Homo sapiens: one gene and its partner. The protein of the gene in region 1 interacts with the protein of each later gene in a pairwise test. Each region holds a gene or a part of one and is shown in the gene's direction. Other genes may lie near its edges.

Evidence for each region.
Region 2: the proteins of SNX33 (region 1) and NAF1 interact in binary tests that used the Homo sapiens proteins (3 or more experiments, as listed by UniProt).

What each region holds. Positions count from the first base shown.
Region 1 is NC_000015.10:75,657,843-75,663,023, forward strand, and holds the end of SNX33 (sorting nexin-33), read left to right. Parts: 3' UTR 1-4,459; downstream 4,460-5,181. UniProt on the Homo sapiens protein: Plays a role in the reorganization of the cytoskeleton, endocytosis and cellular vesicle trafficking via its interactions with membranes, WASL, DNM1 and DNM2. Acts both during interphase and at the end of mitotic cell divisions.
Region 2 is NC_000004.12:163,142,875-163,150,165, reverse strand, and holds part of NAF1 (H/ACA ribonucleoprotein complex non-core subunit NAF1), read left to right. Parts: intron 1-1,731; coding exon 1,732-1,825; intron 1,826-4,301; coding exon 4,302-4,384; intron 4,385-7,291. UniProt on the Homo sapiens protein: RNA-binding protein required for the maturation of box H/ACA snoRNPs complex and ribosome biogenesis.

The sequences.
Region 1 (5,181 bases):
GAGGAACAGCATGGGCAAAGTTATGGAGGCATGCAAACATCTCCCTCTTCTCTCCCTTACTTTCCAAGCAAGTTAGGTACGCTTTCCATGGGGATTCTGGCCTGTGTGGTAGGAAGGGATCTCCCTTGCTCCCATGTTGCTGGCTGTCCGTACATCACCCTGTCCCCTGCAGGAGGGGGCTACAGGCCATCTCCCTCCTGTAGGCCTCTGACTCCCCTCCACTTTTGGGCCCTCAGCTTATCTCGGGCAGGGGACCATTGCAGCATCCTCCCCTCCTCGGACTCAAGGTGCTGAGGTATAAGCCCTGGGCCCCAGATCCCTGGTGACACCTTCCTGGAGAAGACTCTCAAAAGTGACTGTATATTTGAGTTCACCAGCAATAACTCCCCACACTCGAAGCAGGTCCAAACCCAGGATCTCAGGGTCCTTGGGCTCTGTGGCACTGTCTTCCCAAGATCCTTCCTGTTGCACAATGGGAAACCTAAGAGGAAAAAGACAGGGGCCTGCTTGCCCAGCCATGCGAGGGATTCCATGCCCACCTGCCCTCTGTCTGCCTCGCTGGAATGTGGGCCCCTGCTCCCCGTCAGGTTGTGCTGTCTCTGACCTATGTTTACATCCCCGAGGGGTTTCTGCCTCCTCCCCACCCAGGTCAGGGTGTGGTCCAGCAGCTTGCTGTGGGGTGCTGACATGTGTCACCACTGCCCCCCTTGCCCCCGGGGGGGTCATGGTCTCCTCCTGGATGCTGCTCCTTGAATCTTTTTTCTTGATAAACCTTTTACAATTAAGATAACACAAGCATGACTTTTTCTGTTTGGATCCCAGAAAGGCGGAGGGCAGGAGAAGGATAGAGCCCTAATTGCTCCTGAGAGCCATTGGATGAGATTCTGAGGTCGTGGTGGGCACAAATTTTCCACAGAACCTCAAAAGTTCAGGGGAGGGCTATGCTGGTGGAAGGTGCCAGCAGGCAGGAGGAGCTAGAGGCGGCTGTGGACCCCTGGGTGGATCCATCCCTCCCTAGAACGCACTCTTGTCTCTAAAACAGGTGGAGTGCTGCCCAGGGGACTGGCTGTACTGCCTTGTGATCTGGGGCTGAGGGTTGTATGAGGAAGGGACAGGACGCTGTGCCCTAGGACAATTAATAGATGGTGGCTCCTCTCCCCAAGGAGCCATGCCCTGGCCTTGCCCTTGAAAAGCCCTAGTCCAGGGGAGGGAAGTGGGGGACTCAGAAGCTGTGTCTCTTCCCCAAACCGTCCTGGGTACCCAGCCCTGCGGAGGCTCCCACATTGGAAACTGAAGAGGACGCTGGCTGTTGGGGGTGCCCTGATCAGGATGAGCGGACCTTGCTCTTGGATCTGTTCATCCACAGATGAGAGGAGGGTACTGGTTGAGACTTGGCTCTCCTTTGGAGGCAATGGGGACTTGGTGGAGGGAGGGCTTCCAGGGTCAAGGCCGTCAGGGAAGGTTGGCTAGACCAGGGACCAGGGAGCTTGTGCAGGAAGATGGAGAAGGGCCAGCAGGTGCGGTGGGGGAAGGGGCGGGCAGGACTCCCTGTTCAGGGCATAGCGTCCTCAGAGGAACTTCTGGAATGGGTCCCCCTGGCCCTTGGTCAACATTAGGTCAGATTTGGGACTTTCTGAGGAATTTTCCCCTCTCTCCACCCTGCCCCATTTTCTAACCCATCCGAGGAACTTCCCGCCCTTAACCTCTTCTCAGCTCTGCCATCCATGTAGCCATCTGCAGAAGGGGCTCTGAGCAGTGGGGGCTGGGCCAGGCCGAGGCAGGGCTGGTGGGAATGCTCCTCCTAACCCATGGTGCCTGGAAAGTCCCCTGCTCATGCTTCCTGCTCTGGGAACAGTGTTGTCCTCTGTGTGCCTTCCTTGAGAGGGGACCACCTCCCAGGCCTTCCATCCTCAGGGTGAGGCCATCAGTCTGATACTTTTCTCAGGAGGGACTTGGATCCAGGAGAAGCATCAGGAAGTGGAGTCTTGGGATAATGCCAGGCCTGCTCCTGGTATCCTGAGGTCTCTGGGCTGGGGCAGGTGTGTGTGTGGCAGGGAGGGAGGCTGTCCTGGCCCTCCTCTCTCTTTTCTTTCTGCCTCTATGGGGGTGGGGGTATTGGGGGAACTTGGGGCCGTTCTGGGGTAGCTAAGCCCCTTTCAGCAGGAGATTGGGGGACCAGTGTTGGGGGCATCCTGGTGATGGCCGATTCCTGCCTCGTCACATGCCAGGCAGATGTTCCCGACTCGGCTGGACCCAGCTGCCTCGTTTCCTCCCTTACTTTGCTCTGAGGGGGTGGAAAACAAGGCTTCTCTTTCTGCCCTGGACAGCTACCAGCACCCGGGGTAGGGGATCCCCTGGTCACCAGTCTTGGCCCAGTACAGGAAAAGGAATCCGCTTTGTGGCCACAGATGGGGGCTGGGGATGGAAGCAGACCTCAGATCCTGCATCTCTTCACCCGCTGGACACAGGAGGGCTATGAACCACTGTGCCGTGGCTGCACCACTGGCTGGAGCAGAGCCAGGCCTGGGAGAGGCAGGTGGCCCCATCGGCCCCTGCTCTGCACCACCCCTCCCAGATGACAGAGCCATATGTCTTCCACGTGTCTACACACTCACAGACTCACGAATGTAATCGCTCAGTCTCACAACAAGCACACGCAGTCACACACCTGCCCACAGGCACATACGCCACATAAGCATGCCTGTATGCTCACACAGTCATACTGCCACACGCTATTACACATTCACAGCCACAGCCACACATGCCTTGCCATCCATTCAAAGCACCAGTGGCTACTTTGTCAGACACAGCCACACCACAGTCCTATGCACATGGTCATAGCCTCACACAGTGACACATACTCGGGCACACACCGCCACAAAGCCATGCTTGCACAGAGCAAAGGTGTCATAAGCATCTCTGTGCCTGGACTGCACCTGCATGACCTCCCAGGGTCCCCACCTCATCAGAGATTAAGGAGAGCTTTGCTTGGAGACACCACCCCTGGAGGGGGTGTCTCCAAGGGGGAGTAGAGCCAGTCACAAGCACCACATACAGGCACACAGCCTGAGGTCTAGGGATGCAATTGGGATGACTGGATACCACCAAGTTCAGCTCCTTATTGAACAGATGGGCGCCTGAGGCCCAGGGAGCAGTGGTGGCTGGCCTTATCACCCAGCAGGGCAGGGGATACTCTGGGGCCAGAGCCTGGCTCTGGGCAGACTCTGTTTCCTGGCCCTGCCCTCCCCTGGGCCAATCCTCTGGGCCAGGCTGCCTCTGAAGGCCCCTGGCTGAACCGATCCAGCAGAGCTCCAGGCAGCTCCCTTCTCAAGCTAGAGCTGAGCTGCAGTGGCCACGGGAGCCGGAGCCAGGATGCGGTGGGCAGGGCCTAGGCCTGGGCGGGAGGAACATTCCTGCACCATCTCCTCCCCAAGCATGTGAGGACCCAGCCCGCCCTGCCCGCCTGCCCGCTGACTCAGGCCTCCAGGAGCCAAGCCTGCTCAGCTCCCCCACCCACCCTAACCTGCTTCCCCACTAGTTCGGCTCTGGTTCCCCTCTCCACTGGCTGGGGCAGGAGAAGACGGTGAGCCCTGGTAGGAAGACCATGGGGAAAAATCAAACCTCACCACCCCCCGACATAGCTCAGAAGGGCTGATTGTGAAACCCAGCTCTGTTCAACATAGTTGAACACAAACTTTTTTTTTCTTTTGGTTTGGTTTTGTTTTGTTGGTCAAACCCCAGTGCAGTGCAGTCTGTTTAAGAAGTAGTGTCGCATAGCTGTGGCCTGGATCTGCTCAGCAGCCCCAGTAGGCAGCATTTATTCCCTTTCGCAACAAAGAGACTGAGACTTGGCCAGAGGGAAGATGGGACCTGCCTAGGTTCACACAGGGAATCTCTGGCGGGGCTGGACTCAAACCCAGCTCCCTGCCATCACTCCTTAGAGTCACACTGATGAACTCATTTAGGGCCAAAGGAAGAAGGGGAGGCAGATTTCCCCTCTAGATGAGTGAAGGGATAGGAGGCTGGTGAACCCAACGGCTGAAATGTGAAGGGTGAGAGGGTAGGGTGAGTCCCCCCAGCCCTGAGGGATGAAGGGTCTGAAGATGGCACTGCACGGTGACAGCTGCAGTGACTCAGGAGCTCCGTTTACAAAGGAACATGAGTGAGGAACATAACTTAATTTTTTTTTATATCTGACCTGAATTTCTGTTTTCCTCCCCCATTCCCCACATGGTAGAAGTGTAATCTCACATCAATTTGGGGACCCTTTCTTTCCCCAGGGATGTGTAGAACTTTTGGGGATGGCACATTTGAAGACCTTAGGGAGCTTTGCATTTTAAAGGCTGAATCCCACACTCTATCATACATATTAATATTTACCTGCATTCCACATTAAAGGGTTCAGTTTATGACTTGTGTCCTGTCTTGTAGATACTTAATTAAACGGTATTAATTTTGATTTTGCCCCTTTCTGTTGGTGCTCTGCTCTCTTCCCTCCTCCCCGCCCTGCCCACCCAGCAGCACACATTGTTACGGGTTGCTTCTTGCAGAACTCCTGGACCTGGATGCTGCCATTGGGCCTGCGATGCCCGCCATGGTCCTGGTCAGCATTGGGCCCTCCGATCATCTTGCCCTGCCTCCTGCCTTTCCCCTGCATGCTCCCTTGATGCCCATCCTGAGTCTCTGTGTGTCTGGCTCTTCTCTGCTCTTGGGCACTCAGGGCTCCTTCCATTTGCCCTGTACTAAGGGGCTGATAGAGGTCCTTTCTGTGGCCTGTGGCCCCCTCTGGGGCCTGTGGTCATCATTCCACAGCTCCCACTTCGCAGTCAAGCACAGGGAGCTCTGGGGTGCCGCTTAGACACCCCATGCCACCCTGTTTCTTCTGGGATCTGGCTCCTTTCTTGGGGTTCTACCTGGGATGGGGGTATGAGTCCCACTGCTTCGGAATCTCCCAGCCTCTGGGGATTCTACTATCTCCCAGTGCAGGCAGCACTGTGATGGGCACTGGATGGTCGTTATTTTACAACCACCCCATGTGCAAGAGATTATTACTGTCATTTTACACACCAGGAAATGGGGTCCAGCGAGGGGGGTGCTGGAGTAGCCAAGGCTGGTGCGAAACAGTACCCAGGCCTGGGCTACCTGTGCTGAGAGGCAGATGGCCAGTGCCAGGGCCGGGTG
Region 2 (7,291 bases), on another chromosome or scaffold:
CTCATAATAGAAAATACAAAACCAGGGGCCTTTCCTGCTGGTTAAATAGCACTTGTTTATTTGAGAATATTTAACCAGTAGGCTTTATCCCAATCCAAAAGTACTCAAATTTTTGTTTTAGATCTTATAATTTGGCTAGGTAATGGGACAGATTTTATCACTGTACTTCTGGATTAGCAAATGACATTTGCCACTTAACAAGAGGAGCCACTCCCAGAACCCGAGTCAATGTGAAACTCCCCTCACAATTGCCCTCTGAAATATCATTAAAGCCCTCTTCTCTGCAGTCCCCCAAAATTATAGTTATCCAGTCTTGTATTTAACAAGGTTTGAGATTGCTTTAGCTAAGAACTTCTGTAAAAAGGCTATTTAATGTCACAGTTTGTTCTAACAACTAAACTCCCTTCTGCATTCTGATACACACATGAACCATTTTCAAACCATGGTCTTCCCAAGATAAGGCTTTCCACGTTTAATATGATGAAAGGGCAAGTGGTTATTCTCTCTTTGAAAGTACTCATAAGAATTCTGATGGATAAAACAAAATAATTTCCTCTAACACCAGGCAGACTAACCATACAAAGGCATGTTGCTGACTTCCTTCTGCATCAGTTGGTTGAGACCCGTAGTGTTGCTCTCCATAAGTAATCCTGTATCAGAAAATAGCATATCCCAGAAACAAAGTGTATTTTAGATGTCTGCTTATCAACTCTGGTTGAATGATTTTAAGAACCTAGTTTAAGTTTCCGTAGGGGTAATATGATTACTCAGGATGCATTCGTCTGCAGTATACTTCATGTTATGTAGGTTTTCCCACCTTTTCCAACATTTCTCCAAAAGTTATCCTTCTCCCAGTTTAACTGCTAAAATGCCATTGGTAGGGTCTTTGCACTTCAAGCCATCTTGAGGAAAAGCTTCCTTCTGAGAGTTAGATCATTTGGCAAGGGTCAAGAACAGAAAGCTGTGTTTTTAATCTAAAGGCTAAGGTCAGATTTATTCTTAGATTTCTCTTCAGATTCATCTGTACTTCAATATCTAGTTTCCATAGCAACTGAGATGCAGTTTGCAGGTGGGTAAGAAAAGAGAAATCTTTAGGTGTAAAGAAACTTATTTTTTAACCTAGAGAGAGAAGGTATCAGGCAACACCTTCATAGTTTTTATAGGCTAAAGCCTATATTCTTTTTTCAGGACTTCAATGTTTCACTGATAGGTGTCATTTCCTTTTTCCTGAAGAGGCCATTCAACTCTTCTTGACACAGTCGCAGAAAAGATTGCTGCTTCTGTGTTCTGTTTAATCACAGTCAAACTAATTAACTAACCAATTTAACAAGACAGCTAAAAGAACTTATGTGGAGAAATTATAGTTACTAGTAGAATTATTTCTTTTCAAATGGAATGTCTCTGCCTGATAATAGCCTTTTTTACAGGAAGTAGGTAGTCTCTTGTTCAAGTGTGACTGAAAGAATGTAGAATAGTACTTATGTCTGTGTTCTTAGTCTAACTGAATTTGGGGTGTATACTTGAGACCTGTTGAGTCACTTAGGTGGAGAAATGTTGGAGGGAGAGAAGTGCTATCACAAGTCTGCAACCACTAAAATGATAACATTAAAGAGATGCTCTAAGCACTTAAAGCATTTTCAGAGATGTGTAGCACTTAAAATGGAAAATTTATTTTTTTTAAGTTGTTGAAGCTGGAGGAAGTTTAATGTTTTGTTTTGTTTTAAATTATAGGAACTGCCTTCTGTTGAAGAACTCACTATTATTCTGCCTGAAGATATTGAGTTAAAGCCTCTTGGGATGGTTTCAAGTATTATTGAACAACTAGGTATGTTAAGAATTCTATTAATAAAAATTGTTTCCAAACACACACTAATAATTGAATCAATGACTTTTATGACTAGTAAATTTTCTTTGACATACGTAATTAACACTTTATTTTATAGTCATTAAGTTTGAAGGGATAAAATTCAGTTTTCATATACTAAAATTATATATAAATACAGTTTATTTATAGAAATTTAAATGTCTGCTTTTACTGACATACTTCCTCCGGAATTTCCTTTGATTTGGTTTATTAGTTTTCTAATGTTGCTATACCAAATTACTGCAAACTTAGTGACTTACAGCAGCACAATTTTATCATACAGTTCTCATGTGGGTCTCAGTGGGCTTAAAATCAAAGGTGTTAACAGGGCTGAGTTATTTTCTGTAGGTACTAGGGGAGAATCTTACTTCCTTGCTCTTTTTGGGTTCTAGAGCCTGCCCACATTCCTTGACTTTTGGCTCTCTTTCTTCATCCTGAAGGCCAGTAATGTAACGTCTGTCTCTGAGCCTTCTTCCATTATCTCACCTCACTCTAACCACATGTGGAAAGGTTCTCTGCTTTTAAAGACTTTTTAGATTGAGTTTACCTGCATAATCCAGGATAATCTCCCCTATCTCGTGGTCCTTAACTTTAATCACATCTGCAAAGGCTCTTAAAAATGTAATGTATTTACAGATTCAGGTATTTAGAGTGTGGATATCTCTTGGGGAGCCATTCTGCTCACCACCTTTGATTTTGTCTTAAAAACATGTGAGAAAGTTTTGTAATTTAATACTGTTATTAATGGCATGAAATATGAAGTTGCTGAGTTATAAGAGAACTTAATATTTTAGACTTCTTTAGCCCCAACATGTGAGTTTGTTCTGTGAGATTCTTGTTAATATAGGTACTATTAACTCGTAGTAGGATATGCTGGAGAATAGAACTCAGCACTGACAAAGTAATAGGATTTTGGAACTGTGAAGAGGACCTAGATTGCCCACCAGCCTCCACAGGACCTGAGGAAACAGAAAAATTCAAGTCAGTTGCTCTTAGGACCAGTTGTATAGTGAGTCAGTGGTAGAAATAGGACCTTTTTCTTTTGACTTTTTTCTAACAGTGTCTATATTGATATTTTTAAAAATTAACACTTACATAATTTTGTACTTTTTCAGTTTATTAATAAAAATGTAGATTAAAATGAACCTTCTTTTCAAAAATAATAATTAAAATTCTTTCCGTGATTCTGGAATCATTACATTTACTAGTTTTAGAGTTATGGTATTTAATAATATATATAGATAAATCAAACAGGCAACTAATTTCTTGATTATGTGGTATGATTTAAACATTTATTAGACTTGATGTATACAGAAAAATTTTAGGTCATAATGTTGATCCTCAAAAAAATAAATGTAAACTCTGACGTACATGGAATAATGCATGTCATTTTTGCATTTTTAACAATACTATTTTGACTAACATAGACTGAAAAAATTCTCAACCTAATGGGAATAAAGAGTAAATGGGTCAAAATCAGCACATGCTACTGTTGCAGATTTTTAATAGAGATTTTTAATAGAGACAAGGTCTTGCTACGTTGCCCAGGCTGGTCTCAAACTCCTGGGCTCAAGCCGTCCTTCCTCGCCAGCCTCCCAGAGTGCTGCAGGCGTGAGCCACCGTGCCCAGCCTGAAGTATCCACTGTTAAAATTAATTGAGATACAAAAGAAATTGTTTGAATTAATTTTGATAATCTGAGGTAATATATTTTATTCCCTTAGTTGACATGGTATTATCTATGTAATGTAACAGTGTTCTTACTTGTGGCTCTGATGTTCTAAAAACTTATTGAGAGTGTGTTTGTGTGTGCGTGTGTTTTCTCTTTGTTATGGTAGATCAGTTCTTTAATATTTGTGTCATTTAAAAGAACTGGAGATTTGGAGATTATGTTTTTGCTTTTTGAGGAGGGAATTTTCATGTAATGATAAAAATTACTGTGAGCTCTAGCACTTTTACTTCTTCTGTTCATAGGAAGATGCTTTTGTGAAGCCTTTTATTTAACTTTTTCATATACCAGTAACTAAACAGTGCTTTGTAGAAAAGAATTTTTAAGAGTGAGAAAGAAGACTAATTTCTTCTAAAACAGTTTTACAACTAAACGTGATTACACTATTTTTGGTAAAAATTACTTGAGAATATGTACATAGCTTGAATTTGTTGAATCTTTAATGGATGATTCAGATTTTCTGTGGGATTTGCATTTTAATTTTTTTCCCTTAGAATTATAGCTTTTTGTATTAAAAATAGGTATAAAAACATTTCCCAGTGCTATTTGGTAATAAGTAGACTTTGTTTACTGAAGAGAAAATGGTTAATGAGGTAATAATCCCACCTTCAATTTTTTTTTAAATTATGTTGGAATTAAAGCTTAGATTTTCATTAAAATTCTACATTCTCTTATAAGTAAATCTTGAAGTAATCTATTTTATTTTTCAGTAATAATTGAATCTATGACTAACCTACCTCCAGTTAATGAGGAGACTGTAATTTTTAAAAGTGATCGACAAGCAGCAGGAAAGGTTTGTAAAACATTTCAAATCTTACAAATTATTCTATTTATTTATTGTTTTTTTCTGACTTTCCCCATCAGTTCTCAGAAGAGTTTATTTATTTTAATTGATGGACAATCTAGAGCTCTCTAATTTCAGTACGTTCTTGATTTCCTTTAGTACTTCATATCTGTCTGTAAATTGGTTTAATACTGATTATTACTCTTTGCCACATGAGTTATTAAATACACATATATAGAATTCTTTCCTAGTGTTTGTCAGATAACTTGCTAGGCAGTGAGTCTACGTAATGCATAACACATCGTTTCCTACCGTCCAGATACTCAGCTGAGTGAAGAAGACTTCCCATAGTATAGTAGCTCTTAAGCATTTTTGTTTTGTGAGCTCCTTTGAATAGTGGCTCTCAGACTTTTCAGACTTTGACTTCCTCAGGTGGAAGCTCGGTGTGGAATCTTTTCCAAGTGGAAAAATATTTCACTGACAGCAATGAATTGTCACTGTAGGCACATCCTGGGGAATTACAAATATGTGCATTCAAGTAATTACTATAAGATTTGGTCCCTTTTAACATCTTTCTAATGGAACAACCCTGCATGTCCACCTTAATGTAGAAAACTGTGCACTTTACTCAGCAACTAGGCAATTCTGACTGGTTGGCAGAAGACATAAACATTCTAAAATCAAGAATGTAAATACTAAGTAAGTATTTATTTCCTGGCAATAGGGACAGTTTTATTCACCTTGATATTCCCCATTGTATCTAGTACAGTTCTTTGTAAATTATTTGTGCCAAGTAAATGTGTATTGAGTTGAATACAAACAAATAAGAAAGGAGCTATTTGTGATTTTCATGACAGTTGTCTTTTTTTCTTAGTACCTAACTTAGACAATTTTAATCTGAAAATACTCAACACTTTGCTAAATTAAAACCTCTAAACAGACATTTTTTTTGTATTTCCCACTACATTTGAATTTCTAGACCTGTAAATGTGACTAATATTAATATTCAGCTGTCATTTAGATTTGAAAGGAGTCAGATAAAATATAACATTTACACCTCTAACTTTAGTTATATGGCATAAGCCTGTTGGCAAAAATTAAATCTATTTCTAAATTTTACATAGAATGCTTTATAAATGCTTTTGAAAGACTTTGTGACAAGTTTTTAAAAAATACTTGATTATAAATCTAAGTGCCTTGAAATGATTCTCCAAAATAGTAGTGGGAGTAGAGATTAGAAAGTATTTGTTAAACAAACCAATAACCAGAATATGAAACTGAGTACCTTTTAGATTATTAGCATGTCTTATCTAAATACTAAATTAGTTTTACCTTCAGTAGCAAGCCATCGAACATCTTTTCCCTCTTTTCTTCAGTAACACGATAGTAATCAGCTACAGTGATATTTATGTTATCTTTTTAAGTTCACTGAAACCCTGCAAGGAAGTAAAATTACCTCTATTTTAAAACTTGAGAAACCTTGCTAAAAAGTCACAAAGCTGAAATGGATGAGTTTACAGCCCAGGTTCATTTCCCTTCCACCTCCCTTTGCCTTCCCCACTGATTAAGGGAGGACAGTCTCAGATTTTTATTCCTACCTTTGCCCTTTAATCCTAAGAATTGCTAGTTCCCTTGATGAACTAGTGAAATCTGTTTCCTTCTCATATATCAGTGGGTAGGAAATTTTTACTGATTCCTTTTTAAACGATTATATTACTGTCTTGTTTGGTAGGATGTGATGATTTTCTAGAGGACTCTGTATTATATTGATGGAGTGTTGTTCCCCACCCCCTCAGTTCTCATGACATATTTCAAGGTAACTTATGATACAGTAATACACACAGTGATTGAAATGATCAGTTTGCCTAACTAATAGATTAGAATACTCTATTCGTCTGTATTTTCTTCATTTTTGTTGATGGGAATTGAAAAAAGCACAAAGTGATTGATAAAAGACAATGTTGAATAGTTGTAAAGGTTCATTTCCTCATTTCCTTTCTCCTTTGGCAGTTTAGCCCAAAGCTGGCTCACCTAGAGAGACATTGTTTGAAGGCTGTTCCCAGGTGGCAGCATGCAGACCTTGGCCCTTCACAGGCACAGCCTGCCAGCATTGTTCCTAGGCCTGGAGATCCTTGATATATTTATTGTTACTTAGAGAAACTAGGATTTACCTAGTCCCCTCCTAGATAATAGAAAAACTGGGAGTTACCTAGCCCCCTCTAGATAACTTAGTAAGTTTGTGACATGGTATGTGTGTGGAGAGGGGGAGGAGAGTACAGCTCATTCTCCCTTTTGCTGTATTGTCTGTGCACCTCCAGCCTGCTGGCTCAAACAGGCCTTCTACGCCGCTGAAACTTTTGCCATGGTGCACACAGAACATTTAAGCCCAGCCTACGCTGGGATGGAATTTGGGGAACTGCATGCACTCTATATCTTCTCTGCTTGTCAGTTATTTTTCCCAGCAGATCCTACATTATAGCTGTACCACGTTGTTGTTACAGTGTGTGTTAACCTCTGTGTGTGATAGGAATCCTTGGAGATCTTGTAGCAAAAATATAATGACTTTGAGTAAAAAATGGTGAGTATTATCACCTAGAGCCAAGTGAAAGGATACCTAGAAAACCACTTCTCAATGACAGGGCAAGTATAAAGCATCAGTTGGATTAAATTTTTATATGAACACCTACAGAATATATACTAGTTTTAAAGATATAAAGAAAGCTGCTTGCCCACCTCATAGTAAAGGTCTCAGGTGCTACTTTTCCAAATTCAGTTTCTTATACTCTCCTTACAATCTATTACTTCCTTTGCTTTTATCTTGAATCAGGTAGTATGGAAGTTCCAGAATCCCCTAAGTTGGGTGGAATGACCAAGAAGGGATATGGGTGCCTCCTATGGAGCTGTATGAGGAGAAGT